Linked DNA regions of Homo sapiens: regions 2, 3 and 4 are each linked to region 1. Evidence: fine-mapped expression QTL. A gene starts in region 1. Each other region holds a variant in brackets. All regions are shown on one strand. Distances are between the middles of the regions.

What was found.
Region 2: its variant is fine-mapped to the expression of ZDHHC21 in thyroid (GTEx, PIP above 0.99). The same link has a PIP of 0.9 or more in adrenal gland and lung.
Region 3: its variant is fine-mapped to the expression of ZDHHC21 in esophagus muscle (GTEx, PIP above 0.99). The same link has a PIP of 0.9 or more in gastroesophageal junction, sigmoid colon, thyroid, tibial nerve and transverse colon.
Region 4: its variant is fine-mapped to the expression of ZDHHC21 in whole blood (INTERVAL, PIP above 0.99).

What each region holds. Positions count from the first base shown.
Region 1 is chr9:14,688,899-14,697,242 of GRCh38, forward strand. ZDHHC21 (zDHHC palmitoyltransferase 21) reads right to left here and starts at 4,534. Exons shown (of 10, transcript NM_178566.6): 1 at 4,331-4,534; 2 at 1,439-1,487. RefSeq lists silencers at 4,176-4,315, 4,396-4,465 and an enhancer at 4,539-5,039.
Region 2 is chr9:14,669,124-14,677,467 of GRCh38, forward strand. ZDHHC21 (zDHHC palmitoyltransferase 21) reads right to left here. Exons shown (of 10, transcript NM_178566.6): 4 at 5,064-5,262; 5 at 3,707-3,805. The coding sequence starts at 5,217. Among named protein-coding and RNA genes, the nearest start is that of ZDHHC21, 20 kb to the right of the region's middle. The variant A/C (reference allele first, on the strand shown) is at 3,531.
Region 3 is chr9:14,660,110-14,668,453 of GRCh38, forward strand. It overlaps ZDHHC21 (zDHHC palmitoyltransferase 21), which reads right to left. Exons shown (of 10, transcript NM_178566.6): 6 at 2,106-2,217. Among named protein-coding and RNA genes, the nearest start is that of ZDHHC21, 29 kb to the right of the region's middle. The variant G/A (reference allele first, on the strand shown) is at 5,497.
Region 4 is chr9:14,612,480-14,620,823 of GRCh38, forward strand. ZDHHC21 (zDHHC palmitoyltransferase 21) reads right to left here. Exons shown (of 10, transcript NM_178566.6): 9 at 7,160-7,203; 10 at 1-6,619. The coding sequence ends at 6,487. Among named protein-coding and RNA genes, the nearest start is that of ZDHHC21, 77 kb to the right of the region's middle. The variant T/C (reference allele first, on the strand shown) is at 4,280.

The DNA of each region.
Region 1 (8,344 bases):
CCGGGTGTGGTGGCACATGCCTGTAGTCCCAGCTTATTGGGAGGCTGAAGTGGGAGGATCGCTTAAGCCAGGGAGATGGAGACCAAGGCTGCAGTGAGCTGTGACTGCACTGCACTCCAGCCTGGTCAACAGAGTGAGATCCTGTCTCAAACAAAAAACAAAACAAACACAAGAACAACAAAAAATGCCCCGTTATCTACTTTTTTAAAGTCTGTGAACTAGTCAAAAAAACTTCAAATATTACAGCCCTTCGGCTAGTATCATACTAGCTGAAGTTGTATTTCTACACGTTGGTTAGGGGGATCTTTAAGAAGAAAACCGAAAATAGAGATTTGATCTAAAATAGAATGAATGAACTGAAGCCCCTAAACTAAATCACATTCAAGTAAAAGCAGGACTGGTGAGCAAAGGAATAAAGTGTGAAAGAAAATCAGTACTTGATCTCAGAAGCTAATAAAGAATGTATAATGCAAGCAGGGATTCTGAATCAATTGCTGAGTTTTCCAGGAAGACTTTGTAAAAACGTGGGTGGACAAAGTGTCAAAGCATAAAATACTTGCACTATCAATGGTTTCAAGAATCCACTCTGTAGACTAAGTCTTTAAATTACATTCTGGGCAAAATTGAGCATAAGCTGTTGCTCTTCTCATAAATTTGTTTTTGTGTGCACCAGTCTCATGAGTGAAAAATAAATGTACATGACTGTATTAGTAGTACTACACTGCAGTATTAATACTGCTAACACTATCCTAGTAGTATTACTACTAGTAGTATTAGTACTGCTAATACAGGCATTTACCTTTATTTTTCCCTGCTTGCATTAACTTGCTTTAACTTTAGAGAAAGTAGATAACTGGGCCACTGTTTTTTGGGTATGTTTGTCTGAGACAGGGTCTCACTATGTTGTCCAGGCTGGAGTGCTGCAATCACAGCCCACTGCAGCCTCAGTCTCCATTCTCCCTGGCTCAAGCTCACTTCATTAGAATCTTCTAACAAAAAGTAAAAATAGCTTGGGAGGTGTGGGGTGATACGAATTAAAGACCACCAAATATTGTTTCAGTCAGTACAAAAGGTCTCTGTGGGAATTTTCATTAGGGAGATAGGAGTGGGAAAAGGGACTGAAAAGGCAAGATTAAATGTAGGATAGGGACAGGGATTTAAAAAGGTAACTTTTGTTCCAAAATCAGCACAAGGAAAAAACCTTCAGATACAGTAAAAGCCAGAAATGAAGAGGCCCAGGCTTTTCCTGGGTATGAATCAAGTATGTTCTTCCAAGAAGGAAGGGAAGCCTGCTACTTACCTTCTAGTACCCACCACACCAAGAGAGATTGGTGGGGGGTTGGGGGTAGAAGACTAAATTAGATTTCCTTCACACCAGGCTTTACCAAAGCAGCCATGATTTAAGAACACTAACACCATAAGAAAAATCTCTCCTCACCTGCTTGCTGAAGCTGAAAATCCTGCAGTAAGTGAAAAAGTTCTTCATTCTGTAATTACAGATAAAAAGCTTAAAATCAGAAGCTTGGTTGACATCACACTTGAGCATTTTAGGTTAGATTTAAAATAAAATTCACCAGTGAATGGTAAAATATCAATTTTACCCAACCTGCCCTTTTGTAGAAGGGGCAACACATCGGTTAAGAGAGTCTCTGAAATGGGGAAGAAGGTTAATCTACCCTGAGAGAAATAGCACAGAGGAAAAAGCAGCTTGAAAGGCAGAAGGCAAACTTCAAAAATGTCACAATTTTGCCTAGGTTAGGTCTAAAGAGCAAAACAAACACATAAAGTACCATCATACTAAGGTATTTTTGTTCAGGGACCTATCAATGAGCACAGTGATGATTCACATGTCTATGAAAATGTGCTTTTTAAACTAGTCTGACTTGACTTATCAAGAATTCTTAACAAATCACTTTCAACAATAAAAACTGTTTTACAATTTCACCTGTATTTTTACCTTTAATAAGAGTTATTTAAGCACTGATTATTCTACTAGATGCTAAATTGCCTATTATATTTAATGCATGTGAAAAGTTGAATCTGAGCCCTAATGTTTTACTAAAACAACATAAAAGGTTACATTCCTTAATATAAAAGTAAAACTGAATTTAGGGAACAAACTCTTGGCAATAAAAACAGCCTTTCCTCTGCCTTCCCTCTTTTGCCTGGTAGTATTGATACTGCCACTGTGTCACCTCCTATGCTAAAAAAGTTTTCACTGAGTCACATTCAATTACAATTCCAGAAAAACAGCTCCATGTTGAGACATTACTCAACTTCTCAAGCAGTTTCTTTACTAAACCACTATATAATAAGACTAGCAGGAGGACAAACAATAAACTGCTCCTTTATTGACCTTCTCACTCCTCTCCTCTCAACCCAAAGAGGTTTTCGGGAAAATGGCTTATGGATGGCAGCAGTTTGCACTTGTTACTATTCACTATAACAGGTCCCTGGATTGTAACTGCAGAGACCATTTGAGTTACGGTCTTTTTCAAGCTATATGTGGGTCACATTTTATAAAACCATTATTTTATTCATGCATTTTTCCACAGGTTCTGAATCGGTCATTACGAATTAAAGAAATGAGGCAGTAGGCAAATAAGAAGTACATGTTATGATTCATTGATTCTTGTCTCAGAACTTCCTGTTAAGCTGATTATATGTCTGCATTTTTAAATGCTTAGATTTCTCTTATTAAACAAAGTACCTCGTAGGCAAAAGTGACACGGTCCTCATCATTTTCTTTAAATGACGCTCTATTTCATTTATTCCAACTACAGCTTCTCAAGTATGTTAACAGAAATCTCAGTAGTGTCAAAGGATCTAATAGAATTGTTTCCATCGAAAATGATGAATTCTGGAAGAGTACTACACCAAAACAATTATGGAATTATACATTTTAACTTATATTTTCATATTTTACTAATACTTCGTATATGTTTTTAATGTACCTTCAAACCACGTTAAAGGGTCTTATTTAAAAACATTTTCCAAGTAAGCATGGAAAAGCTAAAATAAGCCTTAAATAATTTAGTCTGGCTCTCTGATGGTATAGAGAAAATAACATGGGTCATTGCCCTACCTGTAAACCCACAGCTGGATAGTGACAGAAATGGGACTAGAATCTAGTTTTTCTTTCCACGACACCAAATCTCATTTGGCTCTTTCTTTCCAGTGGATTTCTCACCTCAATTCTTCAAATATCTTTTTGCTTTTAAGAGATGGCACAAACTAAGGAAAAACAGAGCATCTCTCCGAATTTTACCTTTAAAATAAGTAAAATCTAAAGAGTTGGAAGAATTTAATATTACACCAAAAGCCTTTTAATCCAGGAATGGCGCATACTAAGCAGTCATCAAATGGTGACTGTTATTAATATTATTCTTACCACAAGGAAAGCAGTGAATTTTTAAAAGTGCATATATTAGCATAGTAGGCTGAGGACCTATTTAACACATCTTTTTAAATTGCACTTAATTATCCTTAGTCGCCTTTGGACTGTAACTTTACAATATAATTTATGACCCGCCCACAATGACCTTGATTTTTTTTTCTCTTCTACTTTTAGAGACTGCTATATTGCAATATTTTAAAGTAATAATTGGTCATGTCCTCTCAGCCCTGGTGATACAGACATCCACCCTGACTCTCAAGGGATCTTAAAATGTGACCCACATATAGCTTGAAAAAGACCGTAACTTAAATGGACTCTGCAGTTACAATCCAGCGACCTGTTACAGTGAACAGTAACAAGTGCAAACTGCTGCCATCCATAAGCCATTTTCCGAAAACCTCTTTGGATCAAGAGGAGAGGAGTGAGAAGGTCAATAAAGGAGCAAACTGTTTGTCCTCTCTGCAGCTTCACACCAGAAGTCTGGAATGAATGAAAAGCTCTGGAATAGCACAGAGAAACCCGGGATCCCAGTGCAGGTCTCCAGACGGGGGTGCGGGGAGAGAAACTGTAGTTTACAAGCGAGAAACTCAGGATACAGATTTAAAATAAATAAATAAATAACTAGCCAACATCGTCTCGACTAGAGCAGGAACCCCCCACCCCCAGTTGAGGGAGGAGCACTTAGCAAGGGGCTGTAGCTCTAGCAGAAGACGCTCTGAAAAAGGCCAGGCCTGGGGCGGGGAGGCACCGAGAAACCCCCGGGTTCCAAACAGAGCAGGTGCAGGGGGCGTGCAGGAACAGGTGAGGGCGTCCCGGCGCGGAGGAGCGGCGGGCGGGCCCGGCAGAGCGGAGCGGGGGCCGGGGATGGGGGTGGGGGTGCGGATGGGGATGGGGGTGGGGGCGGCCGCTTCGCCCCCGCGCCTGCACACTCACCGTCGCCGCTGGCTCGCCTCTCGCTGCCGCCGCTCTCCCGACCGCCAGCAGCTCTTTCCCCTCCTCCTGCCGCGCCACCTCCGCCTCCTCCGGCGCCGCCGCCCAGGCCGGGCCGCTCTCCCCTTCCGCTTCCGGGAGCCTGAGGGCCTGGACCGGCCGAGTGGGTGTCCGCATGCCCGCGCGCCCGCGTGGGGAGGGACGACTGCCGCCGTCGCCGTCTCGCTTAGCTCCCGGGAGCCGCGATGGGAGCCGCTGAGGGCCGAAACTCCTGCAATCGCGCCGCAGCCCCAGAGCCGCGGACCCAGGCAGACCGCACTCTCCAGAGCGCTTGCACCTGGCGCGCCTGGGCGCCTCTGCCCCTCCCCAGCCCTACTTGAGCCGTCCTTCTCATTGTCCCCATATCCTCACTGCTCACCTCTCCCGAGAGACAGGATGGGGGCCTTAGCTTAAAAGATTGCATGTATCCTTTCTTCGGGGGATGTGGCCAGCAGGCCTCTCTCCCCGCAGGTGTTCTGGGATGTCCCATGGTACCTTGCTTCAAAGCGCGGTCTGCAGCATCAGCATCCTCTGGGAACTCACAATCTTTGAAATGCACAATTTCAGGCCTGCTGAATCAGTACATGCACTTCAGCAAGATCACCAGGTGACTCCTGGGGTGCACCGTAAAGATGGAAAAGCATTGCACTGTAGTGCATGGTCTCGTCCACTTCAGACCCTCTATTGGGTTGCCTCAGACATCCCAGGATATTTCCTGTTCCTGTCCTCAACCTAAATCCACACCCAAACAATCTTTTCTTATATTTTGGGAGACCTCCAAAAGTTTCCTGCTTTCCCATCCCTGCAAAAGCCGACAACTTTTGGACTCAGCGATGCAAGTAATCCACCTCTCAGTCTAACTTGGTATCTTCACCAAACACCAGAGATCTACTAACTTTCCCACCTCACTCCGGCTGAACAGTATTTGGGGAAGGTTAAACCGTTTGCAGTAATGTGGAGCTAGATCTTTCTGCCCACGTGCCACAGGAGGAGACAGTGTGTTGGTGGAAGAAATATTACCTGTTGTATAAAATCTGTATTCCTTATAAGATGTGCTTAAAAGCCCTCCACAGACACATCCCTACCTACCTCTCCAGTCTTAGCTCCAACTAATTTGGTTCATTTCCCCATTCTAGAATGCCCTGCTCTCTGATGATCTTAACCCTATCCAGATTTGAGAGTGGAAATCTTGCCAAACCAGAGTTCTCTCACCACTGCCCTTATATAGTGCACATTGTTGCCTGTTTGGGGCCTCATATTACCTTGTATTGCTAAGGATTTTTAAACATGTTGTGTCCTGGTTTCTGAACTAATTATAAACACCTTGTGACCTTAAAAACTTTGGTCAGTGGTTATCAAAGTGGGATCCCTAGACCAGCAGCATCGGTATCACCTGTCAACTTGTGAGAAATCCATATTCTTTTGCCCCATCCCAGATCTACTGTAGTAGAAACTGTTTAGGTGTAGCCCAGCAATCCGTGATGTAACAAGCCTTTTAGGTGATCCTAATACACACTCAAGTTTTAGAATTACTGACCTAGATTACTAGATATTCCCAAAAGAACCCAGTGGTAGGAATTGATTTACCCATAAGCAGATTTTATTGCCTTTCAGGTTAACAAATACACTCCCCGATATATGCATAGCGAGGTTGAAAGACTAGTCACGATTGCTTTTGATAGAATTACCTTTATTTTTCATAAATCATTTGATGTAGTAGGATTTTTGTAACTTTCTCTGTTTGAAAAGAAGGAGATATTTCATATAAACAATCACTTTGAAGGAAGAGGAAATGTGGAATCCTCCCACCGGAATCCAGCTACCTGATTGCGTATTCAATGTGAATCCCTTCTACCCAAATCCAGCTACCTGATTGCATATTAAATGTGGACTCCTCCCTACCCGAATCCAGCTACCAGAATTGCATATTAAATGTAAAATCCCCCCCCCACCCAAATCCAGCTACCCAATTGCATATTAAAAGTAGAATCCCCTCCACCTGAATCCAGCTACATGAATTGCATATTATTTTGCTTTCTCTTCAGATACCCCTGTGAGAGGGAATAATTTGTGACAAGTGATCTCAAAACTGCCAAAATAAGAATTAGTTGACAGGTCCATGATTGCACATGACAATTGGAAGTGCATGGATTTTTCAGTCCCTTTTTAAAATAAGTTAGCCTGTCTTTTATCAGCCAAATCAATTCCACAGAGAATTTTTAAGCAAGGGAATAGGAGAGAAGAGGCAGGAGAAACATCCTTAAAAACATGAACCTTTTTAGCATGGGCATTTCATGAGTATAATCAAAGGCCTGCCTATCCCTTACACTGAAGGTCAAGTCATCTGGTTCTATCATTCATGCTAATCATTGGTTATATTGTATTGCAACCCATACATTCAGGCACCTGGGTAACAATAAGGGGGTGAGGGAGATGTGGCATCAGGTAATCTTTTGAAAAGATTTTCTATTTACTGGGTATATTATGGAAAGACGATATAGATCGTACCATATTTTTTCCCTCCAGAATTCTAATCTACTTCATGGGGCCTGGGACAAACTGAAATGTGATTATTAATCAAACTAATATTTATCTGGAAGTAGAAAAAGTAGACAAGGACAAGTAGCATTGCTGCCACTGCCAACCAAGCTTCTAACAAAGGCACACTCAGGGCATTTATGAGGGTAAACACAGCCAACTCCTGTGCTTCTGTGCCGTGACTAGGGAGGATCTGGATTTTAGTGCAATTTCCAAAAATCAGTGCAGTCCAGAGTTTAATCAGTACTGGCTAATAGCCCTTGGCAGCTTTGGATGGATGGCATTCTCCACCTGCCCAGCTGGGTACCATGCCTTAAGCACCCATATTTGATGCACATTCATGATTTCTTGGTTGCCTATAGTTGTCTCTCCCATCTGTTTGAGTGGCAGAGTGCCTGTGCCATAACAATCTAATATTCTAAAAGTTGTTCTTAACCTCTTCTCTTTTGGGTTACACATCTCTTTGAGTATCTGATGAAAGTTGTGGACCCCAGCAAAGTACACATATACACAAATACACACACACACACACACACACACACATATATACACACACACATACAGGAACATATATATTTATATATATGAAATTTATATATATGAAGTTTCACAAGTTGCCCCACCTTCCTATGCCTCCAAAGGATCACAGCGAAGCCAGGAACTTCAGGCTAAGAAATATCCCTAGAATGTAGAGAGTAGGTAAAATAAACATTTTTCCCCAAATATCAAGGAAAACTGCAAAACAAACAAACAAAAACGACTGTGTGCTTAGGAGAAAAAAACAATAGCAGTGCTAAACAGAGTTACAAGGAAAGTTTTATGGAAGTGCTAATGAAGAAACTAGTAATTTCCATGGGATAGTTCAAGGGTGGCTTCTTGGAGAATGGTTCCTGTATCAGGCAAGTGAGAATAGGATTTTGATTGGGGGAAAGGAGGGAAAGAAATTTCAGGACAGAGGAAAGTGTAAGCAAAAACATAGAGAAATGAAAGTGCAAGAATCCCTCTGGTGTGGCTCAAAGGTAGGATACATGGAAAGAGAGAGGGCTGGAAATGTGGAACAGATTCCAAGCATGGTGAGCCTCAGAAACAATGCTATTCCCAATGAAGAGTCCTTAGGCTTTTGGCAAAAGGTGATGACCTGCTCCAAGCTGGAAAAGACTATTAGTGAGGGCAGTGGTATTATCAAAAGGCAGAGTAGTGGGGCATCTGGAAAGGTTCTAAGTATACTACATTGGAACCTGTTAGGCCACATTGCTTTACCTCAACTTTGGATTGTTTGATGGTGGCTCTAGAAGTTTCTATTCAATTAAATCATGATGAACCTGAGATTCTTACACTTGGTTAAGTGCTAGTAGGAAAACGCATCCTAGTGAATGTTCTGATGAGTTGAGTCTAGGATGCTGAAAGAGTTAAAATCTCTTTTGGATTAAAAGAGTGAGA
Region 2 (8,344 bases), 20 kb before region 1:
AGAATCTACAATGAACTCAAACAAATTTACAAGAAAAAAACAAACAACCCCATCAAAAAGTGGGCGAAGGACATGAACAGACACTTCTCAAAAGAAGACATTTATGCAGCCAAAAGACACATGAAAAAATGCTCATCATCACTGGCCATCAGAGAAATGCAAATCAAAACCACTATGAGATACCATCTCACACCAGTTAGAATGGCGATCATTAAAAAGTCAGGAAACAACAGGTGCTGGAGAGGATGTGGAGAAATAGGAACACTTTTACACTGTTGGTGGGACTGTAAACTAGTTCAACCATTGTGGAAGTCAGTGTGGCGATTCCTCAGGGATCTAGAACTAGAAATACCATTTGACCCAGCCATCCCATTACTGGGTATATACCCAAAATGACTATAAATCATGCTGCTATAAAGACACATGCACACGTATGTTTATTGCAGCATTATTCACAATAGCAAAGACTTGGAACCAACCCAAATGTCCAACAATGATAGACTGGATTAAGAAAATGTGGCACATATACACCATGGAATACTATGCAGCCATAAAAAATGATGAGTTCATGTCCTTTGTAGGGACGTGGATGAAATTGGAAATCATCATTCTCAGTAAACTATCGCAAGAACAAAAAACCAAACACTCCATATTCTCACTCATAGGTGGGAATTGAACAATGAGATCACATGGACACAGGAAGGGGAATATCACACTCTAGGGACTGTGGTGGGGTGGGGGGAGGGGGGAGGGATAGCATTGGGAGATATACCTAATGCTAGATGACGAGTTAGTGGGTGCAGTGCACCAGCATGGCACATGTATACATATGTAACTAACCTGCACAATGTGCACATGTACCCTAAAACTTAAAGTATAATAAAAAAACAAATAAACAAAAAAAAACAAAACAAACAAACAAAAAAACTTTGAATTCACACATTGCAAGGAATATAGACAGGAAGGAGGCGCTCCACAACGAGCCAATTTTCACTAAAAGGCGATATAAAAATTTGTTTTTATCAGCCACTTAAAACATAAACACGGTGTATTCATTATTGGTAATTTCTGAGAAATCAGCATATAATATCCTAGAGAATAAATTCTTCATTTTATATCTAAAATGTATTCTCAGAAGAGAGCACTTGGCAATAGTTAGAGAAAGCCTACAATTTTGTAATCTAGACCACAGATACAAACTACAGTCTGCAGGCAAATCCAGTCTACCACCTGTTTCTGTATGACCTATGAGCTAAGAATAATTTTTACAATTTTAAATTATTGAAAATAACAATTTGTGACATGTAAAATCATAAAATTCAAATTTCTGGGTCCATAAACAAAGTTTGATGTACCCATCATTTACATATTGTCTATGGCTGCTTTTGTGTTTCAGTGGCAGAGCTGAGGAGTTGTAATAGAGACTGTATGGCCCATAAAGCTGAAAATATTTACTACGGGCCTTTATAGTAAAGAAGAATTTATTTGCTAATCTATGGTCTGGACCATAAATTGATTTAAAGAAAGAACTTGAGTCATTCCTTTGATAACATGAAGATATTACATAAGTATCTAAAATGAGAAATACCTGTAAAAACTCACAGTTTCACATATCTATATGAACACATACATATCTATATGTTTAGGGAACAGAGGAGAAATCACTATTGTCAAAAATCCAGCAATTTAATTGATCATCTAGAAGGTGCTTTTGCCTTGTGTAGCAAGAAAAAAAATCCATCCATCTTAACACACCCTACATATCTCTAAAGCCTTTCTTAGTCATTTCCCTTTCCTTCCTTTACTCATGTCCACAAAGGATCTTGGCGACTGATACATTCTGATGTCTAGTGATTTTTGTACTAGCCAAGTAATAATGTTTTTAAAAAGACTATGAGAAAAAGAATTCAACTGAAAATTTATGATAGCTTTAAAAAATTAAAAGCTAACAGATACATTTTTAAGGGAGAGAAAAATCAAAATATAAAACAAAACCAAAAAAAAGGCAAACTCCATGACTGAGGCTGTTTAATGTGAGTAAATACATCATTTTGTTTAACCTGGAGATTTACTAATGCTGTGAATGCTTGAATGAATATAATGCAATGCTTGGTTTGTTTGACCCTCAGAAAGGAAGGAATCACCTTCTACATGAGTCTTTTAAAAGACTCTCATTTTAAGGGACCCTCACTCAATTAATACATTTAAAATCACTATGTAATGCTTTGAGAAGAAAAACATTACTTGAAATTACCTAAATCAATACAAAGTTTGGGTCCTAACAGAGATTCCCTAACAAGAATCAGTTGTCAATGTAGGAAATAAATGTCAGTAAGTCTCTCACAGATCACCTTTAAAAAGCAATGTAAGAGGGAGGATCAAACTAAAACTATGAGTGAATACATGACCCTGATTACTGAATACAGGAATCCTTAGAGCTTGGGGTAAATTTTTGAGAGACTGCATCAAAACAGGACGCATTTTTTTTAACTTGAAAGAATTTCCACTGTAATGCTATGTCAAAAAACATGGCTCTAGTAATGACAAAACCACATGTCGAACATTCAAGTGAAAAACTCGATTAAAATGTTCTAAAGTTGATTGCAGTGATGGTTACACAACTGTGGGCATACAAAAACCCATAGAATTGTACACTCTAACTGGGTAAATTATATGGCATGTAAATTATACTCAATAAACCATTTTTAAACATAGTTAAGAACTTGAATAAAATTTCATAAAATATGAAAGTGATAAAAATATTTCTAACTGAAGGTGTTCATTTTGTTTTATTTCAAATACACACATGAACAATTCAAGTAATATAAACAAACATGTAACTATTTCATTTGACTGTTTCATCTATATGCTCAAAAGTTTATAAAGTCAAATTCTGGGAATCTTCTCATGGGAAAATGGAACATTTCCTTATATTCAAATTGCCTCATATTTAGTGGGTCACATATATACTGAAGTCATTGTGTTTTAAAAAAGCAGAAACGCATGTAAAATACTTCAGAGTAATTCAATAAAAAAATAGTTAAAATCACCAAAGTATTAGGACTTCAAGATCCCTTTTTTGAAGAATTCAGTTATATGAAACTGCTCAACCTTTAAACATTCCTGAATAAATGTCACTATTCTACAGTTTCAACTCTCTAGGCATTCAATATTATCTTTCACTGTTAAAATTTTGTATTTTTTTTTACTAAATTAAAATCATATTTACAAAAGAATCAGGTAACCAGCACCAAAAAGTACATTATGACTTAAGTTTTCCCCAGATTCGTAACAAAGGTGAATAAAAAGCTAAAATTATCTCTGTACATAGATCCATGGTAATAAGATGACAGAGACAAGGTTCTGGGTCTTTGGGCTGGATCGCACACCAACAACCAGATGTTTAACCCAGGAAGGACAATCTATGCTCCTGACCACCCAGCCTACCTACCTCATACAATTACCATGAGGATCATATGATATGTGATACAGAAGCCAAGAGATGGGGTGTGGTGAAACTGCCGGGGTGC[A/C]GGGGGAGCAGGGTTGCAATTTTAAGTAGAGAAGTTTGGAAAAGACACATACAAGCAAAGACATCAAAGTGGTGTTAGATGACATTTATAACCAATATATATTAAAGGCAATAAAATATGTAAATAAAGACAGTAATTCTGGCATCAGCAAAACTGATAAATCCAGAGTACCATACCTCCATGTGGGATCTTGGGGTTCTCAGGGAGTCTTCCTGGATCAGTTATGGAGGCCCTCACTAAGGCAACCAGACAGAATATGGAAATGCCATAGAATACTTTAAAATAAATAAATTAAATAAATTAGTCACTTACCCTTCAAAACATTTTATCAACAATCATATTTAAAGTTTAAAATGTATATTTTAACAAACACCATCAGGAGAAAAAATTTCAAAAGATTAAAAAATAAATAATTGATTTCACTCACCAAATAACACTGTCAGGAGGACTATCTTAAATAGTCCTAATTTTAATCATTACTAATTTTAATTATTATTTTACATGATAGTAACTCAAAGTTCTTATAAATCAGATCCCTTAATAACAGGGACTTCCTATTAATAATGGCATAAATGAATAGGCTCCCGTTTAATTACTGCATGTTCTATATTTGAAAGGATCAAAATACCATTTTAAATTCTACAACTAAACTTTTTCATTAACTAACTGGGTATCTTCAATATTACTCTGAATTAGTGATGTTCAACTGTCCCTTTTGATGGATCTTAAAATGATTAGTTTGATAATTAAGACTTAGAAACTTTTTAATTTTAAAATTAATAACCAGAAAACAAAAATAGTAAGGGAAAACAGATTTGGCCACCATAATTCTACATTTTTAAATTAGTAAGAATAGAGAAATTCTGTTGGGGCGATAAAAAAAAAAAACATACTGTACATGTAAAGGGAATAGTCTGAGTGCTCAATCCAGGACTGACTGCATAGTACCGGTCAGTTTTATCATATATATATAAAATTTCCCATGGTTCGTGTGAGGTCAAAATGAGGTAATGTGCATGAAAACTGTAAATGCCATGTACATGTAAAATATATAATTTCAATTTATTTTAATCATAAGCAAGCCATCACCAATTGACTAATAACTATCCAGAAGTTCCAAGTGTTATCATAATCAACTTCGTAATCAATACTTTTCTTATGAAATTCTCACTTCTCAGTAATGTATACTGTCTCTATTCTTAAAACATCTACATTTGTAATTAGGTACAAAACAGCAATAATAAAAATACAGAGAGACATGCAAGTTATCACTACTGTGTCAGTTTTCTATTTTTAACAAAATGGTCTTCATGCACTTTGCAGTTAAAAATGGAGATATCACTTTTATCTAACTGCAAATCTATAAAGGCCATTATTTCCATAAGTTCATAAATTAGTAAATAACTGAATATTGACAGCACTGCTAAAATACTAAATATATTAAAAGGAAAGTTATCATAGTGGCACTACACCCCAAAAACGTTTACAATGAGAAAAATAATTATACAAGAAAATAAAGATCAAGAAACTTACTTATTATTAATATGCCTGGAATATGTCCTTCTTCATAGTGAGGAAAGAGGACAATTTTGGGAATTAAAACAATATTGTATAACCAAACAAAGACAATCAAACCCATGCAGCACCAACCATGTGGGTCAACAACAAAGTGAATCCGGAGACCCATTTTGCAATCTTATAACTGCCTGCTAACCCACAAGGAAGGATGATCCTAAGGAGAAGGAACAAAGAAAATAATTACTTACATAGAAAAATTTGACTAAAACCTGTATTTCTGGCAACTTTTATAAAATGACATTGAGTTTTCTTTGCATATTTGACATTTTCTTTCTGTAGTTGATATATTTATTGATATTTCTTTGTATATATATTTTTACAATAAATACTTGGGAAAACAAACAGAAGTTTCAGGATATTCAAATTTTATCATAAGCTTCAAATAATTTCAATGTTTCACTATGAACTGCTATCACAGGTATAAACTGGAATCATCTACTGAATTTAAAACACAAGTTTGTCCTTAACCCAGCAACTTCCTGTGTAAACCCAAAAGAAATGAATACACGTGTCCACCAAAAGATTATGTACAAAAATTTTTAGTAGCTTTAATCAGAAGACTGATGGGTCACACAAGTCAAAACAGTGGTTACCTTGTGGTTGCAGGGGTGTATATTAACTGAAAAGGAACATGAGAGAACGAGGGGTTGGGAAACGTTCCATATCTTGACCTGGGTGGTACTTTATGTGTATCTACATATGTAAACATTCACTGAGCTGTATACTTCAGATTTGTGCACTCTAGTTTAATTTTAAACTACAATAAAACATTTTTTAAGTATTTTGAAAAATGACAATAAAAAGTGAAAACTAATTACAAATTGCCAAAAATACTAAAATTCATAGAATGAAGCCCAACAAATCTCATTATGATCAACTGAAGAAGACTCCTGTTTAAATGAGGCTTTTTTTAGTTGAGTGTTAACAATATGCCAACAGATCTCTCAATGAGACACTTAAGGACTTAAAATACTTCTATATAAATATGGTACCAAAAAAGTGACTAAAAATACATCCATACTTTGGTAGATATAACTTCCAAGGATGAAATAATAAATTGCTGTATAAAGTCTAGGGGGTACCTTTTACGTAAAATACAATGGTATAATAATAAACTAGGACAACGGTTCTCTAGCCTGTAAGAAAACCAAAAACACCTGGGGAGCTTTTTAAAAATACATATTCCCAGACCCCATTCTACATCTACTGAATCATAATTCTTCATAAAACTCAAAAAACAATAAAATGTTGTAAAATGCTCTGCAAGAGTCTGAAAACAGCTGACTGGTGTCTAGGAAGCACTGACCCATGAGCTTCACTAACACTTCAATGTTACCACAATGAGTTGAACTCACTTAGTTCAACAAATATTCACTGAGCCTCCACTACACACCTATCACTTGCTAGACACTGCAGATACAATGATGAAGAAGACATGGTCTTTGCTTAAAGGAACAGTCTAATGGGAAAAAGAATCAGAAAAAAGATTTAATATAATATGGTAAGTTCCAGATTTGAAAACAAAATGTTAGTAGGGGCACAGAAGATGGGACCAGTTAAACGAGGAATCAAGTAAGACTTACTGTAAGAAGTGAAACCTGAATTCAGTCTTAGAAGGTTAGTAAAAGTTATCTAAGCAATGAAAAGTGACAAGAATACTGCAAACAGAAGGAATAGGAGGAGCAAGAGTAGAAATTGTGGGAGGTATTACAACCTGCCATCACAAATCATAAAGCTTTCTGTGGAGAGTGAGTGCTAAGAAATATGGGCCTATATCATGAAGGACATAAAGATGCCATGTTAGAATGCTAAGACTGAATTCTTCGGCAATGGAAAGCTATTGAAGCAGGGGATTAACATGACGAAATGTGTACCGTGAATAAATTACTGAAGCTCTGGTGTGAATGATAAAATTAAAGACAGAGGTCCATTAGGCTAAGAGAAGGCAAAAGCCAAAATTAGGTTTGCAGAAAGGAGCAACTGCTAGAATCGAACCAGTGTGTTTTTCTGGTTGATTAGATATTAGGGGTTACAGGGGAAAGTGTCAAGGGTGATTCCCAGATTTTCAGCCTATATCCCAGTCTACTTCATTCTAAGAACAATTCATAATCAATTGAAAAGCCTCAGGGCACCATCCCTTAGAGGCCTTGCCCATGTTCTTCAAAGCTATAAAGCTACTGAAACAAAGAAAAAGAGATTAAGGAATACTTGATTTTAAAGGAATACCCCCAGTTTCTCATCCCTAGTTCCTGCAAATATTGGGGCAGCAGAAAAAAAACAAAAAACAAAACAAAAAAAGAACTCAAATGTAATACCACTTAATAGTTTAAATCCGGTATGTTCTAACTTGTGTATGAATTCTAAAACAGAAATAGTGCCCAGGCCACTAAACTAATAAAAGTTTCATTTATTTATCTTTTAATTTAAAAATCAAAAGACAGATTGGTATCATTAAAATGAAGAAAGTCAGACAGGATAAAGCATGCTATTTAATTTGCTAAGAATCATTTTAATAAAGGAATCTCAAATACAAATGGTAAGCTATCTACACAGTTAAAAAGAGAAACATTCAAGACAATGTTAATTTTTTAGTCTTGCCAATTATCAAGTGCTAAAAGAAATGACAAGTGCTCTCTCAACGTGTTCAATATTATTAATTTTATGTACCTTTCTTTCTTTAATTTTTCAGTTCTATTCAGGACTAAAAACAGAACATGAATTTCACTAAGTATATATGAGAGTAGCTTAAATTTATTAACATTAGAAGCAGAAAAGTACATGAGCCAGCAAAACGACTGGCAAAATTATCAAATATTAATTTTTGAACTCTATTTTTATTCTCCTCTACTAGAGAACAAATTTTTCTTCATCACTGGAAGAGATCTCTCACAGCAACAAAAAATTACATAGTGAAAAGTATAGTTTAAAATATGTCCATTTTTCCTGGATGTAAACATACATAGATGACACTCTCTAAAAGAGCAAGCATCCCTAAGGAAAAGTGAGCACAGGATAGAAAAATAAAACAACAAACAAATAAGATGTTGAATATATTTTTTTTAATACCTGATTGGTAAAACTTAGCTCCACATAATCCTCTCAATTGGGTCGTAGAACACAAAACAGTGATCTTCCAAGTGCTCCAAATCAGACGACAAACCACAAATGCATAACTGGAAGAGGTGCAAGATCTCTCCACTCAATTAATATCTACCAGGCGTGGCTTATGGCTGAAG
Region 3 (8,344 bases), 29 kb before region 1:
AATCCCAGAACTTTGGGAGGCCGAGGGGAGCAGATCACCTGAGGTTGGGAGTTTGAGACCAGCCTGGCCAACATGGTGACAACCCGTCTCTGCTAAAAATACAAAAATTAGCCAAGCATGGTGGCATGCACTTGTAATCCCAGCTACTCGGGAGGCTGAGGCAGGAGAATCACTTGAGGCCAGGAGGCAGAGGTTGCAGTGAGGCAGAGGTTGAGATCATGCCACTGCACTCCAGCCTGGGCAACAGAGTAAGACTCCATCTCAAAAAAAAAAAAAAAAAAAAAAGAATGATCAGAGCCACAAATACAGAAAACCTTGAGGCAACGTGAGAATTGACCTCCAAACCTAAAAATGTCTTAGGCAGTTAAGTAGTGCAATTTCTGAAAACATCAAAAATTTTCCTTGCTTCCAATTTACACTGTACATTTCCCCTGCTCTCTGAACATTTCAGCAGTGCTCTATCAGGAAATTCAATGATAAAAATTCCTGAATCTCTTTAGGTCCCTTGTCTACTCTCCTTTCTGATCCTCCAATCCTTTGTACTTCCCCCTCACTGCTACCAACTTCTGAAAAGTTGACTAAAACTATGGAAGCAAGAGGCCCAGAAAGAGAAATCACCCCAACGTTAGAATTAAGGTTAAATAGCACCTTATTTGGTCACCAATAAGTGAGTCTTTCCTAGTTCTTTCTTACTACTGCATTCGTTTGAAAAAAAAAGCATCAATATCCACTTCCATCATGAACATTTGTATTTTAGTGAATAAGAAACTCTACAATAAGAAGCGCTTAAAAACTGAGCTTTTCTGTATGATCAGCAATTATCTGAATACATGTTTCACGTAGCTTTCTAAAAATCTATTACTATTGTGAGAGCAAACAGATCACTGAGCTTAAGAAAATTACTTGGGAATTAATCTTTATTCCCAAGTAATTCCCAAATAATTATTTACGTTTAAATTCAAGGCACAGTTTTGAATATCAACTATATGTCATACACTACTCTATCTTGTTGACAGATTTAGAAATTTTTAAAATTTTTATGTAGTAACAAAATGCTTTTATCGAAAATGCTCTTACTTTTTCCTATTTCAGGAAATTATCTTCTTTTTAAACAGTCTATGCAAAAAAACAAATTTCCACCAGAAGTTTGCTGAATAACTGTGCTATCAAAATAAGTTATCAAAAATAAAGAAAACTCTAAATAGACTAACATTAGAAAAAGCTAAACTCCACTTGCATCAATTTTAAATAAAAGCAATTATAAATTAAGAGGCTCATTATGTAAATTTGCATATATGCATGTATGTGTATACAAACATAAATACTACATATATGTATACAGATACATTTGTCAAATTCTACACTATACCAGTTTAAATATTTATACAGAGAGCCAATGCTAAGAAAACAGAATTAAATACAATATCTTGTTCACAGATTTTTGTGACAGCTTTAAAATGAGATACAATACAGAATTCACGCAGCATTTGTTTTCGAAGATTATATTTCTCAACTGAACATTTTCTTTAAATATTACAAGAGAGCCCCCTATTGACCAAAACTGTTAGCAGTTCTGCAGAATCAGCTAATTATCACTCACATACTTCCAACAAGTACATAATGGTAGTAGCTATATCCAATACATAATGCTTAAAAAGCTTTAAGGGGTAAGGAAGAGGTTATCAGGGTGTCTGAAATGTTATTAATTAAACAAATGAAAAGGGGATATAAACATTCGGATGCATATGGTTTATTACAATTAGAAATAGCTACCATTTAAGTACATCCTACTTGTCAGATATTGTAGTAAATGTTTTATATACATTGCCTCATTTAATACAACCACCTTAATCCTTTTGTATATCAGGCTGCAGTTAATTCTTACTTTTTTGGCTCAAATCTCTCCCTGTTAGAAAAGATAGGATTTCTGTGGAAAAATGACTTTGGGAGTTGACAGAACCATATAATCTAAATAAAGATATCCTTATTAAGATATTGTAAAACTATATAACTTTAACATAACTGTTGTTTAAAGCTGCCAAGTTGTAAGATTTACATTTTATTACCCACCCCTCTTTTCTTTGCTAGAAGTGAATTATTCTTACCATGGACAGTGATGATCCATTCTCCTCACACAGTGGCCGCAGCGGCTACAGTGATGGGAACGCTTTGGTCTCATCAAATTACACTTGTTACATAATTCCCAGAACTCCCTTTCTAAAGAAAAGAAATTAAAATCCATTTAATGAAGGCAAGTGGGTAATGCTGAAATTTACCAACAGTTGTTTAGAAGATTTTATAGGAAGCCTTCAACATAAAACTCTAAGAGATTTTTCTTCTAAGCCTTTGGTATAAATGTGTTTGCCATAAATGCTGCTGTTCTATTCTACATATGTCTTATTTTGTGTGTTTCTAATTTAAAAGACTAAAAAAATAAGACACTATTGTTATAGTCAAAGTAAGAGACAGAAAACAATGTATTTGGATTCTGGGTATACTGTGAGAATATAAGTAAAATCCAATGACAAAACCCTAGAGCCCAACCAAATTATTATACTAAAACAATTTTATTTAAACAAATTGATTTCTAGAAATTTCATTTTCTAAAGGCTCTAAAGAAGAAATAATGCTGACCCTGGTTTCAATTGATTAGTAAACTGAAATCAACCCTATAAACTCATCCGAAAAACAGATGGCATTTCCCTCCACATACACTTTCCCTAAATCATTTAATTTTAAAAAACATCAGTAGATTCATTTAAGAGTGTGTATGGGACAGGTTAGAGAAGGATGTCATATGGGTTTGGGAGGTATCAGAATAGTTTCAGTAGTGAAAAATGTTATAAGACAACTACTATTTTTAATGAAAATAAAGGAGTTCTTCATAAAACACTGAACTACCACCAACTAGCAATTTCCTCTAATCTGGAGTGAAACAGCACACGATTAAGCTCTGTGCCAAAAACACAAAGTTTGCATAAGAGAAAAGGCTTTTGTTTTCATTAAAAACTGTCCTAATTAGGTCCGCGAAAACTATGGAAGAGTCATCTTCCTAGAAAAGACAATTGCCTTATTATACAAAAATGTATCTTTTAAATATATTGGAATGGAATTTTTCTTTTACAAAATTCTTTTAATTTTCATCATCTGTGTTTATACTATCCCATAACCTCATTAAAAGTATGGACATAGTAAGATTAGCCTAACTCCTATATTCAGATTGAATTTTAGTACATGAAGAGTAGGACCCTAGCACATACTAGGTAGTCACTAAATGCTTGCTGACATATGAAAAGTCTAAAATCAAAAAATGAAAGATTCTAAATAAAAGTGAAAGATAATAGTAGACAATATTCAATTTTCTTTTTTTTTTCAGATTACAGATTTTTTTTTTTTTTTACCAATATTGATATTTTTATTTCTTTTTTTTCTCTTTTTTTTCTTCTTTTTTAAGATTCTCTGTTTGAATTCCATTACTTTAGTTGAATGGTCAGGAGCAACATCAACATGCTGGACTTTTATATAGTAAAGCGTTGGGAAAATACTCCCACTACAGACATCTCTGAAGAAACAAAGTATGAATAAAACCTACATCAAATTAATTGTTCCAATAATATGAAAGTTGAGAAATTATCTCTTATACTTGAAATCTTATTTTAAAAGAAAATACTTTTTCATCTCTTACAGTTATTTTAATGAAAATAAATCATGCAAGAGCAACAGTACTAAAGCTTAATTTACATAGTTAAACTAGTACTATTTACCTCTAAGTGAAATAAAAACTCATTTAATCTATAGCATATTACAATGTCACAAGCATATCATATTCCACTCCCCTACTTAGCTCAATGCTCCCAAACATCCCAGTGTTAAAACTTTGAATTCGGGGGGAGGAGCCAAGATGGCCGAATAGGAACAGCTCCGGTCTACAGCTCCCAGCGTGAGCGACGCAGAAGACGGGTGATTTCTGCATTTCCATCTGAGGTACCGGGTTCATCTCACTAGGGAGTGCCAGACAGTGGGCGCAGGCCAGCGGGTGCGCGCACCGTGCGCGAGCCGAAGCAGGGCGAGGCATTGCCTCACTCGGGAAGCGCAAGGGGTCAGGGAGTTCCCTTTCCGAGTCAAAGAAAGGGGTGACGGACGCACCTGGAAAATCGGGTCACTCCCACCCTAATACTGCGCTTTTCAGACCGGCTTAAGAAACGGCGCACCACGAGACTATATCCCACACCTGGCTCGGAGGGTCCTATGCCCACGGAGTCTCGCTGATTGCTAGCACAGCAGTCTGAGATCAAACTGCAAGGCGGCAGCCAGGCTGGGGGAGGGGCGCCCGCCATTGCCCAGGCTTGCTTAGGTAGACAAAGCAGCCGGGAAGCTCGAACTGGCTGGAGCCCACCACAGCTCAAGGAGGCCTGCCTGCCTCTGTAGGCTCCACCTCTGGGGGCAGGGCACAGACAAACAAAAAGACAGCAGTAACCTCCACAGACTTAAATGTCCCTGATAGCTTTGAAGAGAGCAGTGGTTCTCCCTGCACGCAGCTGGAGATCTGAGAACTGGCAGACTGCCTCCTCAAGTGGGTCCCTGACCCCCAAGCAGCCTAACTGGGAGGCACCCCCCAGCAGGGGCACACTGACATCTCACACAGCAGGGTATTCCAACAGACCTGCAGCTGAGGGTCCTGTCTGTTAGAAGGAAAACTAACAAACAGAAAGGACATCCACACCGAAAACCCATCTGTACATCACCATCATCAAAGACCAAAAGTAGATAAAATCACAAAGATGGGGAAAAAACAGAACAGAAAAACTGGAAACTCTAAAATGCAGAGCGTCTCTCCTCCTCCAAAGGAACGCAGTTCCTCACCAGCAACAGAACAAAGCTGGATGGAGAATGACTTTGACGAGCTGAGAGAAGAAGGCTTCAGACGATCAAATTACTCTGAGCTACGGAAGGACATTCAAACCAAAGGCAAAGAAGTTGAAAACTTTGAAAAAAATTTAGAAGAATGTATAACTAGAATAACCAATACAGAGAAATGCTTAAAGGAGCTGATGGAGCTGAAAACCAAGGCTCGAGAACTACGTGAAGAATGCAGAAGCCTCAGGAGCCGATGCGATCAACTGGAAGAAAGGGTATCAGCAATGGAAGATGAAATGAATGAAATGAAGCGAGAAGGGAAGTTTAGAGAAAAAAGAATAAAAAGAAATGAGCAAAGCCTCCAAGAAATATGGGATTATGTGAAAAGACCAAATCTACGTCTGATTGGTGTACCTGAAAGTGATGGGGAGAATGGAACCAAGTTGGAAAACACTCTGCAGGATATTATCCAGGAGAACTTCCCCAATCTAGCAAGGCAGGCCAACGTTCAGATTCAGGAAATACAGAGAACGCCACAAAGATACTCCCCAAGAAGAAAAACTCCAAGACACATAATTGTCAGATTCACCAAAGTTGAAATGAAGGAAAAAATGTTAAGGGCAGCCAGAGAGAAAGGTC[G/A]GGTTACCCTCAAAGGGAAGCCCATCAGACTAACAGCGGATCTCTCGGCAGAAACCCTACAAGCCAGAAGAGAGTGGGGGCCAATATTCAACATTCTTAAAGAAAAGAATTTTCAACCCAGAATTTCATATCCAGCCAAACTAAGCTTCATAAGTGAAGGAGAAATAAAATCCTTTACAGACAAGCAAATGCTGACCAATTTTGTCACCACCAGGCCTGCCCTAAAAGAGCTCCTGAAGGAAGCGCTAAACATGGAAAGGAACAACGGGTACCAGCCGCTGCAAAATCATGCCAAAATGTAAAGACCATCGAGACTAGGAAGAAACTGCATCAACTAACGAGCAAAATCACCAGCTATCATCATAATGACAGGATCAAATTCACACATAACAATATTAACTTTAAATATAAATGGACTAAATTCTCCAATTAAAAGACACAGACTGGCAAATTGGATAAAGAGTCAAGACCCATCACTGTGCTGTATTCAGGAAACCCATCTCACGTGCAGAGACACACATAGGCTCAAAATAAAAGGATGGAGGAAGATCTACCAAGCAAATGGAAAACAAAAAAAGGCAGGGGTTGCAATCCTAGTCTCTGATAAAACAGACTTTAAACCAACAAAGATCAAAAGAGACAAAGAAGGCCATTACATAATGGTAAAGGGATCAATTCAACAAGAAGAGCTAACTATCCTAAATATATATGCACCCAATACAGGAGCACCCAGATTCATAAATCAAGTCCTGAGTGACCTACAAAGAGACTTAGACTCCCACACATTAATAATGGGAGACTTTAACACCCCACTGTCAACATTAGACAGATCAACGAGACAGAAAGTCAACAAGGATACCCAGGAATTGAACTCAGCTCTGCACCAGGCAGACCTAATAGACATCTACAGAACTCTCCACCCCAAATCAACAGAATATACATTTTTTTCAGCACCACACCACACCTATTCCAAAATTGACCACATAGTAGGAAGTAAAGCTCTCCTCAGCAAATGTAAAAGAACAGAAATTATAACAAACTGTCTCTCAGACCACAGTGCAATCAAACTAGAACTCAGGATTAAGAATCCCACTCAAAGCCGCTCAACTACATGGAAACTGAACAACCTGCTCCTGAATGACTACTGGGTACATAACGAAATGAAGGCAGAAATAAAGATGTTCTTTGAAACCAACAAGAACAAAGACACAACATACCAGAATCTCTGGGACGCATTCAAAGCAGTGTGTAGAGGGAAATTTATAGCACTAAATGCCCACAAGAGAAAGCAGGAAAGATCCAAAATTGACACCCTAACATCACAATTAAAAGAACTAGAAAAGCAAGAGCAAACACATTCAAAAGCTAGCAGAAGGCAAGAAATAACTAAAATCAGAGCAGAACTGAAGGAAATAGAGACACAAAAAACCCTTCAAAAAATCAATGAATCCAGGAGCTGGTTTTTTGAAAGGATCAACAAAATTGATAGACCGCTAGCAAGACTAATAAAGAAAAAAAGAGAGAAGAATCAAATAGATGCAATAAAAAATGATAAAGGGGATATCACCACTGATCCCACAGAAATACCAACTACCATCAGAGAATACTACAAACACCTCTACTCAAATAAACTAGAAAATCTAGAAGAAATGGATAAATTCCTCGACACATACACTCTCCCAAGACTAAACCAGGAAGAAGTTGAATCTCTGAATAGACGAATAACAGGAGCTGAAATTGTGGCAATAATCAATAGTTTACCAACCAAAAAGAGTCCAGGACCAGATGGATTCACAGCCAAATTCTACCAGAGGTACAAGGAGGAACTGATACCCTTCCTTCTGAAACTATTCCAATCAATAGAAAAAGAGGGAATCCTCCCTAACTCATTTTATGAGGCCAGCATCATTCTGATACCAAAGCCGGGCAGAGACACAACCAAAAAAGAGAATTTTAGACCAATATCCTTGATGAACATTGATGCAAAAATCCTCAATAAAATACTGGCAAACCGAATCCAGCAGCACATCAAAAAGCTTATCCACCATGATCAAGTGGGCTTCATCCCTGGGATGCAAGGCTGGTTCAATATATGCAAATCAATAAATGTAATCCAGCATATAAACAGAACCAAAGACAAAAACCACATGATTATCTCAATAGATGCAGAAAAGGCCTTTGACAAAATTCAACAACCCTTCATGCTAAAAACTCTCAATAAATTAGGTATTGATGGGACGTATTTCAAAATAATAAGAGCTATCTATGACAAACCCACAGCCAATATCATACTGAATGGGCAAAAACTGGAAGCATTCCCTTTGAAAACTGGCACAAGACAGGGATGCCCTCTCTCACCACTCCTATTCAACATAGTGTTGGAAGTTCTGGCCAGGGCAATTAGGCAGGAGAAGGAAATAAAGGGTATTCAATTAGGAAAAGAGGAAGTCAAATTGTCCCTCTTTGCAGATGACATGATTGTTTATCTAGAAAACCCCACTGTCTCAGCCCAAAATCTCCTTAAGCTGATAAGCAACTTCAGCAAAGTCTCAGGATACAAAATCAATGTACAAAAATCACAAGCATTCTTATACATCAACAACAGACAAACAGAGAGCCAAATCATGAGTGAACTCCCATTCACAATTGCCTCAAAGAGAATAAAATACCTAGGAATCCAACTTACAAGGGATGTGAAGGACCTCTTCAAGGAGAACTACAAACCACTGCTCAAGGAAATAAAAGAGGATACAAACAAATGGAAGAACATTCCATGCTCATGGGTAGGAAGAATCAATATCGTGAAAATGGCCATACTGCCCAAGGTAATTTACAGATTCAATGCCAT
Region 4 (8,344 bases), 76 kb before region 1:
GGTGTTTTAAATTACGAGTACACTTAAAGGGTGTTTCTCTTCATTTTTGTAAAATTAACTACTAAGCAAAATTAGTTTTAAAAATCTTACTCTATGTAAAGTGAGTAACCATATCCAGACTTTTTTCTTTCATTAAGTTCAATTTTCTGTTATCAGTTTTGCTTAAATCAAGGTACATATGCATTTCCTCTTGGGAAAGCATCTCTCTCTCTGTCTCTCTCTCTGTCTGTCTGTCTCTCCGTATCTCTCTCTCTATATATCTACACACACATATGTACACATACATATATTTTAAAGGTGTTCTGTTATCTTTATTTGCAAAGTAGACAAATGGCAATATTATTCTTTAAAGCCACTAAAGATTACACACACACACACACACACACACACACACACACACACGCTGAACTCGATTTGTAATGAGAACGAACCTTAACTCTTCATCTTAGTATTTTGTTTCAGTATTCACTAAAGTGCCCAATAAGCTATATAGTTCATTTATATAAATTAGAGTTCTTACCTTTTTATTCATTGTTGCAGAAATAAAACAACTTGTGAAAAGTGCTTCAATTATCTTTTGTAATTTCAGCCTATCAAACTACCTTTTAAAGTAGCCAAGCTATATTAAAATACAAAATTAAAATCCATACATGCCTACCTAAAAAAAAATCCAAATGAGAAACATTTAAAATCCATTAAATTGCCAGAGCAGCATGCAAAAAATAAGATCTGTTAATCAAACTGTTCTTAGTAACATTAAATTCTACTTTATAAATACACAACGATGTGAGAAGAAAACTCAGTCAACCAAAAAGAAAATTAACTCTTTGGTACAGGAATTAAAAATGTCACTCAATGCTAAAGTGAATAGCACCAGGATGTTTTATAGTTGTTGAGGTTATAAAACACGAACTTCAGGCACCAGTAGGTTAAAATATCATCCAATGTATACTGGCAAGAATATATAGCTTGCAATACGCAGGTAAGCTTTCCCTTTAGTTAACAGCCTGCAAACAATTAAACCCTGTATTTGGTCAAACAGGCAGGCAAAGCCACAAAAAAGCCCACAACTTCTGTTAAGCTATTTTGTCCGCATCTTTGTTTATATATAAAGCTATCGATACCAAAAAAATCAGTGTTGAACTGTTATAAGAACGACATTACATGTTACAGATATTCAAAATACCAATAGAAATGGAGACCTTCGAGGTATCAAGAACTCCAAAATATCCCAAATGTTAAAGTGAAAGCCACCCTTATATATTGTTTATTTTTCCTCTGGTGACAAAATTTTCTATACACTCAGTATCTTTTCTTTGCAATAAGAGATTTCCAGAAAAGGTGCCAGTTTTTTCAAACTTTGGTCAACCTATTCATTTCTCCTCTGCATTAAATAGCTGAGTTTTCCACATTATTTTTAACACTTCACATGATCATACTCTACACAATTATATTTAAAACTAAAATATTTATAAAAGGCATCTGACCAACTGAAGAGAAACCGCAATATAAATTCTTTAAGTTAAATAATTCAAACTAAATGCTTATATGCACTAACAACTCTTCCCATAAAAATGGTATAAATAAGAGATAAGGCTAAAATGATTACAGCAAAGAGATTCTCTGATGTCAGAAACTGGCTCCAGTCAACTCTGTTGCTGAGATGCTGATTATTCATGCACCATCTAGCCTTCTCTCCATCTTAGTAAGTTTGTGGATACTCACTACTCATTTGTACCTATTCTCTAGGGTGGACAAGGCAAAAAGAACATAATAATAGTAAAAAATATAATGATAATGGAAAGTATCAGTAATATCAATGACTTTTTAAAATACCATTGTTATTTCTGTTTCAAATTAGCAGGCAGTATTGTAACATCTGAAGAACTGACAAAGATATAGTGAGTTTTGTTGCTAAAAATTGCACAATGATAATAAAAGAAGTCAGAAAAGTCACTTTCCTGAAGTTAAACCATCATCATCTCAAAAGGAGCAGAAATGCTAAATACTGATTAACATATAGAATTACAACACTGGTTCAAAATAGTTCAAGCAAGTTGGTTCTAATACTTTCTTATACTGTACTGTGGAATATTCTAGAATTCAACTGAGAATGACTAAATATAGAGCACAATGAAATCTGTGATTTATAATAAATTCAGAGGATGATTTCTAGAATAAAAGTTAACAAACTTGGGCATTAAATAACACATTCATTAATCATACAGTTAATACTAGCAAGTAGAACACATTAAATGTACATGGCTTATTTGCTACACTTACCAATACTTATATTTTTAAAGCAGTAGTAGAGTTGTGTGAAAATCTAATATTTGTATCTATTAGCAAACTACTCAATGTTTGTATGTGTGAATTTTATCAAATAAATTCTAGATATATCTATGTATATTAGAGGTCATGTCAGAAACTTATTCAATAAAGTAACTATAGGTTATTAAACTTGGTAAACTTGAGCTAAGTAATCTATTGATACAGGAAGCGCAAGAGAAGCAGAGACTAGAGAAAAGTCCAGAGAGAGACTAGCAGCTCTATTAATTAGTATTAATGGCATATTAAACCAGAGCTTGGTACATTGTGATTTTATAGCAATACATGTGAAAACACTCAAACTACCCCATGATCTAACACACAGAAAATTGTGTAGCTATAATCTAAATCAGTTCACACTTCCTGGTTTGAAGTGTTGTCCTAACTTAAGTCTTCATGATTAGCATTCAGAATTAATACACCCTTTGGAGTGAAACATATCACCCACTAGTTACTTGTATGGGAGTGACTTGAATGTGTAACAAAGAATAGTTATCATTAGCCATCATACTTAGAGAAAAATGCCTCTATGCATTGGCAAAAACGCACTGATGTTAATCCTGGCAGATGTTTTAACTCAGCTGTTATACTGAACATTACGTATTATGTTCTCTATTTCATTATTAAAAATAAACCATGCTTTTTTTCTGAAAAAGTTAATATGTTAACTACAATTTAAAACAGCTATTTCTAATGTTAAGCACAAATATTTGTAATACAACTCTTAAGCAAAATAGTATTTTTATTATAATGAAACATCAGCTAACTTGATATTTTTAAACTGTAAGTCTGGGTTACAAAGTACCAACTGCTCTGTAACTGAATGCCTACTGCTTGAAGGGTCCTGAACTCAGTCCATTTTTGCCTACAATCTTAAGCCTACATGAAGCCCATAAACATTTTTGTTTGCAGAAAACAACAATGACAAATATGATTGTTAAGGAGGTGTAACTTACAGTATCTAGGTAAAAACCTTTCATTTCCAGAAGGTCGACAAATGACTTTACTGATGTAAAAACATGCTTTAACATACATTTTGCTTAAAATCAAATAGAATGTTTATAAAGAAATACTTCAGTCCAACATACATATTACATCAGTAATCTTACTGCTCACAATTATTTTCTAATGCCCAACACCTTTAGTTGTTTTCAGTTATCCAGAATACATAAGAAATTGTTACTAAAACTATAGATATAACTCTGCGAAATGTAAAAAAAAGAACAAAGAAAAGGAAAATTATACAAAGAATCATTAATCTCTTAGTTATTTTAAGGCAATAGAGCCAGTAAAAAAATCATTTCAAAACTGAGTAAAATAAACTAAATGTAGTTTTTTAGATATTCATTAAAACACAGAAAATGCTTGGTTGTCTTTGTAGCTACAATACATTTCTATGTTTTGTAATAAATTGGTAATTTCAAAGTAACAGCTTTTCCAATTCTAAGGAATTACTCTGCCAAAATAAGGTTTAAAATAAAATACATAAAATGGCTTAGTTTATCCTAATCTGATATAAATTTGTGATTGATTGACAGCAAGAATATAATGGGAACGTACATAAATGAAGCAAAGCAGTCATCACATTCTTATGAACTAGAAATAACATCATAAAAACATGTTCATTTTCATAAAATTTTACATTTTTGTACATACACTCCTCCTAAGTTTGTACTTTTGATATGTTCAGAATGTGGCTATACTATTTACTTATGGGGCAGTAAATCTTTAGAGCCAGTATAATTACATCAATTAGCCAAAAGAGGGCGCAGAAACAACACCAGTAGATATGCTTAGCAAACTGCCAGTTGGTTTTTCTCTAGTAGTCTAATAAGAATTAACAAAACCCACAGGAGAGTTAGGTACGCTAACTGGGGAATACTGAAAGTTACAGTGTTAAGTATATATAGATATACTGTAATATACATTCTTATGTATATATACTGATAGA[T/C]AGCATTTCTGCATTCAAATAAAATAAGTGTATGCTTTTCTAGTATATTAGTTTGTAGTCCAATAATTTAGGGGAACTGAGTACAGAGGGATCAGGACCAGGAAAGGTAAAGAGGAAGAGGGAAAAGAATATGCCCTAGATGAGGTAAATCTAGGAAAAATAAGAGCACAAATCATCAGAGTGGGAAAGAGACCCTGCCCAGTACCCACTGCTACTACATGAAGTATAAATTAGCCACAAAGTTCTTTAGGTGATCTTCACTTGGCTCTGCTGTTTTCTCAAGGTCTTTATTTGAAAGGAATGTATACAATATAAGGCATTCAACTGATATCTACCTACCTTATCTATATATTACTTCCTTATGAACAGTTCTGTCACCAGGCCAAATGTGGCCAAATTAGCTTGCACAAAATCCAAACCCTTGTGCCTGACATGAACATTCTAATTTTGTGTTTCACTAAGCTTTATAAATATATTTCTTCTATTTAATTTACTACGTCTCTTTTCAGTACCAATAAATATGTTCGTCTGCTGTATTTCTGTTCGTATTTCTGAGTTTGTAAGTAATAAAGTATTCTAATTAGAACATGAAAAACATGATATTAACATCTCTGAGAAGAACTTACTCTATTATTTCAGAATATGCTACAAGATATTTACAATTTCTGAAAGAACTAACCACAGTATAGCCAACTGGCTGACAATGGTAACCTTCTGTTTAATTATTTCCCAGGTATTGTTCCTTACTTTCAAAACTAGCTAAAAGGAAAATGTTAGCATGGTTTATGAACAGTAGACTTTTTCAATCTTCTCTTCAAGGGAAAGACTGTGAGTACATAAATTTTTTAAAAAGATATATGGGTTTTGCAGTATTCTAATGGAAAAAAACTAAAAGCTGAGTTTTTTTCAAAGCATACTAAATGTCTTTTCATACAAATGTTCTATGCCTTGCAAAAGAACATCACTATTAGTAATTTACATTTGTACAAGGCTAATGATAAACACAGATCATTATATTTTCTTATTTTAGGTTCACTTCCTAACACTAGCTACTAGTAAAAGGTCTCTCAATGCAAATTACAGCCAGCCAATTAAAATTTAATTTTAATTTAGGGATTATAGGTACACAAAGTTAGTGACTTTTTTTAGTAGTAGCTTCCTATAAATAAAATTTCTATATGAGTTGGCCAATATATATAAACCTTCAATGTGAAATTTTACATCTACTAGTACATAAATAAAAGTAAAAAGTATACTCTTTTCAAAAGCACAATATTCCTCTTTATACTGTACATTATATACTATCTAGTTATACTAGCATTTTAAAAACATATGCATTCTAATATAACTGCACTAGAAAAGGTAATTGTGAAGTTATTGCAAATTCTCTCCCCTTTTTGCTCATTAAAATCTTAGGATAAAATAGGAATACATGCCCACTGGTCAGGAGTTCTCCTGGGAGCAAATATTTTAATCACAATCAATAATTACAACAGTAATAGTGAAAATTGAAAAAATTATTGTGAAAAAAATTTTAACATTTCCTTTATAGTAAGGTAGGTAGTTGGTGTTTTACTTCAGTGGTACTTTCATGTTGGTTTTGGTGAAGAAAAAAGAAGAAAACGTAAGCAAGCCACTCCTAAGAAACCAATGCCCGTTTTGTGTTGCTGTTGTTCACTCCTATGCTGCTGCATTTTTAAAAACGTTGCAGCACATTTAAAAGGAAAGGTTATTTTAAATTGGATTTGAAAAAGAAAATTTACCTATACTATAAGAAGGTGTATCAACTTTTGTAAAACCTGAATAATTAAATTTAGATTTGGTTACTGTTTAAAAGTGAAAATTTTAAATAAACATCTGAAATTTACCATAAATTAGAATCTGTAACACTGTCAGTACTAAAATAAATTATGTACAATTATTTCATCCTAATCACTGCCTTTTGAGTTTAATAACAAAAGCATTTCAAGAAATCCCTGTGGAAAGCTAATTTGAAAGTAAACATGCTTTAAAACTTAAATATAGATCTTGTATTAGTCCCACAACAGGATCAAGATCACTATTAAAATAAAGCCTGGGGCACATTATGATGCCTAAGACTGGTGGGTGGATTTTAATTGACTTGAAGACTGTCATAGTTCTATTATCATAAAACCTGTAACGCATTGCCAGCATGGAGGACCCATCTGTGCCCACCATCCATCTGTTTAGACATGATTGGCAAAGTGGTAGGGAACTCGCAGTGGTTGCCTCTGCCTGAAAGGAATGAACCACAGGATCTTCCAACGAGTGCCAAAAACTTCTGAGAAGGTCTGCTGCCATGGCTTTCGGGGCCTCGATCTACAGAAGACAGCATTATTAGTGAAAGACAGCACTCCCATGGTGCACTTCAGTCAGCTAAAACAATACAGATTGGCTGGGGATCCATTACTGGACTCTGATGAATTGTGTCCCAGCATCATAAATACAGCTTTTCTTTCATTATGGCATGCAGCTGAGTTTTAACTCTGGATAGCAGATATTGTATCTGTGTCGTCAATCAACCGAGCGCAACTTTTGAAGCAGAGGAAAATCTCAGGATTAACAGAATGTGTGTCAACAACACAGTAGCAAATCTCTTTTGATGTACTTTCAGGACAAATAATTTAACTTACTTTAGTTAGACAAGGCACAAGAATGATCAGCATTTTAGTGTGAAAACTACCATGGCTGGAAAACCCCTACTGTAAGACTGGGGTAGCTTGCCTAGCACAGGCCTCAGACAATGCACCAAGAAAAAGCCATCATTATATTATCTATCTACCATATGCACATATTTCTCAAGTATGTCCAGTTCTTTCCAATTTTAAATAATACTATACACTTCAGTTTTATACTTACATATCTTCACAACAGTTTGACATCTTTTCAATAGATGTTGTATCCTATTAAAAATAAAAAATTATATTCAGATGTAAGAAAGTTATTAAGTCTTTATTCTGTATCCACTCTATCATGTTTTTAATCTTATTCCAAAAATATTCTATAGATTTAAACAGTTTATATATGAGTATTATGAATTTTAAATTATCTTTCATACATTGCTGGAATCCCCTTGGAAAAACAAAATCAACATTATACTATGCAAAAAAAAACCTATTCAAATACTAAAACCTCACAAAAATTATGACAGTATCACTTCATTAAAATATAACCTTTTATTACACTTGCTTTCTTGACAATTCCTTTGAAAGTCTACAATCTACTTTCAATTTAACTGTCAGTGAATATGCATTAAAAAATAAATACTAAAATGACATATGAAAGAAACTAATGAACAGAAAACTGCCTAAGAGTCAGGGTGCTACTGGTTCTGGGTTTCTGTAAACAACAACAAAACTCAACAAGGCAATCTATGAATTTGCCATATTACAACATCTATTATTCTGAAAACTAAACTGACCAGAGTTCTTTCTTAGCGGAAAAAATAACTTTTTTGATAATACAATTCCCTAATTGTATGCTTTCTGTAAGGCTCTAACACAAATATGTAAAAAAAAAAATTTCAACAAACAGAAGATTGCTTCCAGAAATGCTGGTTTCTGTTATCAGAAGACTTATCATTAGACTGGCAAATTGTTATAAGCAATAGCCAAATAATCAAAACACAAATTACACAATCTTATTTTTAGATATTTATTTGTATTTTAAATATATTTTGAAACAGTGCAAAAGAGTACATTCATTCAAATACACCAAAAGCTGGAGAAGTTTTCCTCTTTTTATCCCTTACTTTACCTTAACACTTTGTTTATACATAGGTGGACTTATTTAAGCAGTACTATTCATGCAAACTCTTGCAGCTACAGGTAAAATCCCAAGAACTTATTTGGCTGCAAAACTTTTCCAATGATGCTAATAAACAGCACCTTCACTCAAAAACAACTCTTTAGAGATGTTAATAGCTCATAATATTAAATTCTCATTAAGAATAGTTGCATAACTACAGTTAGCCTATGTAAGAGAAAATCAGAGAAAATGGATCTATTTTTAAGATAACTAATAACCAACAACATAGTTTCATTT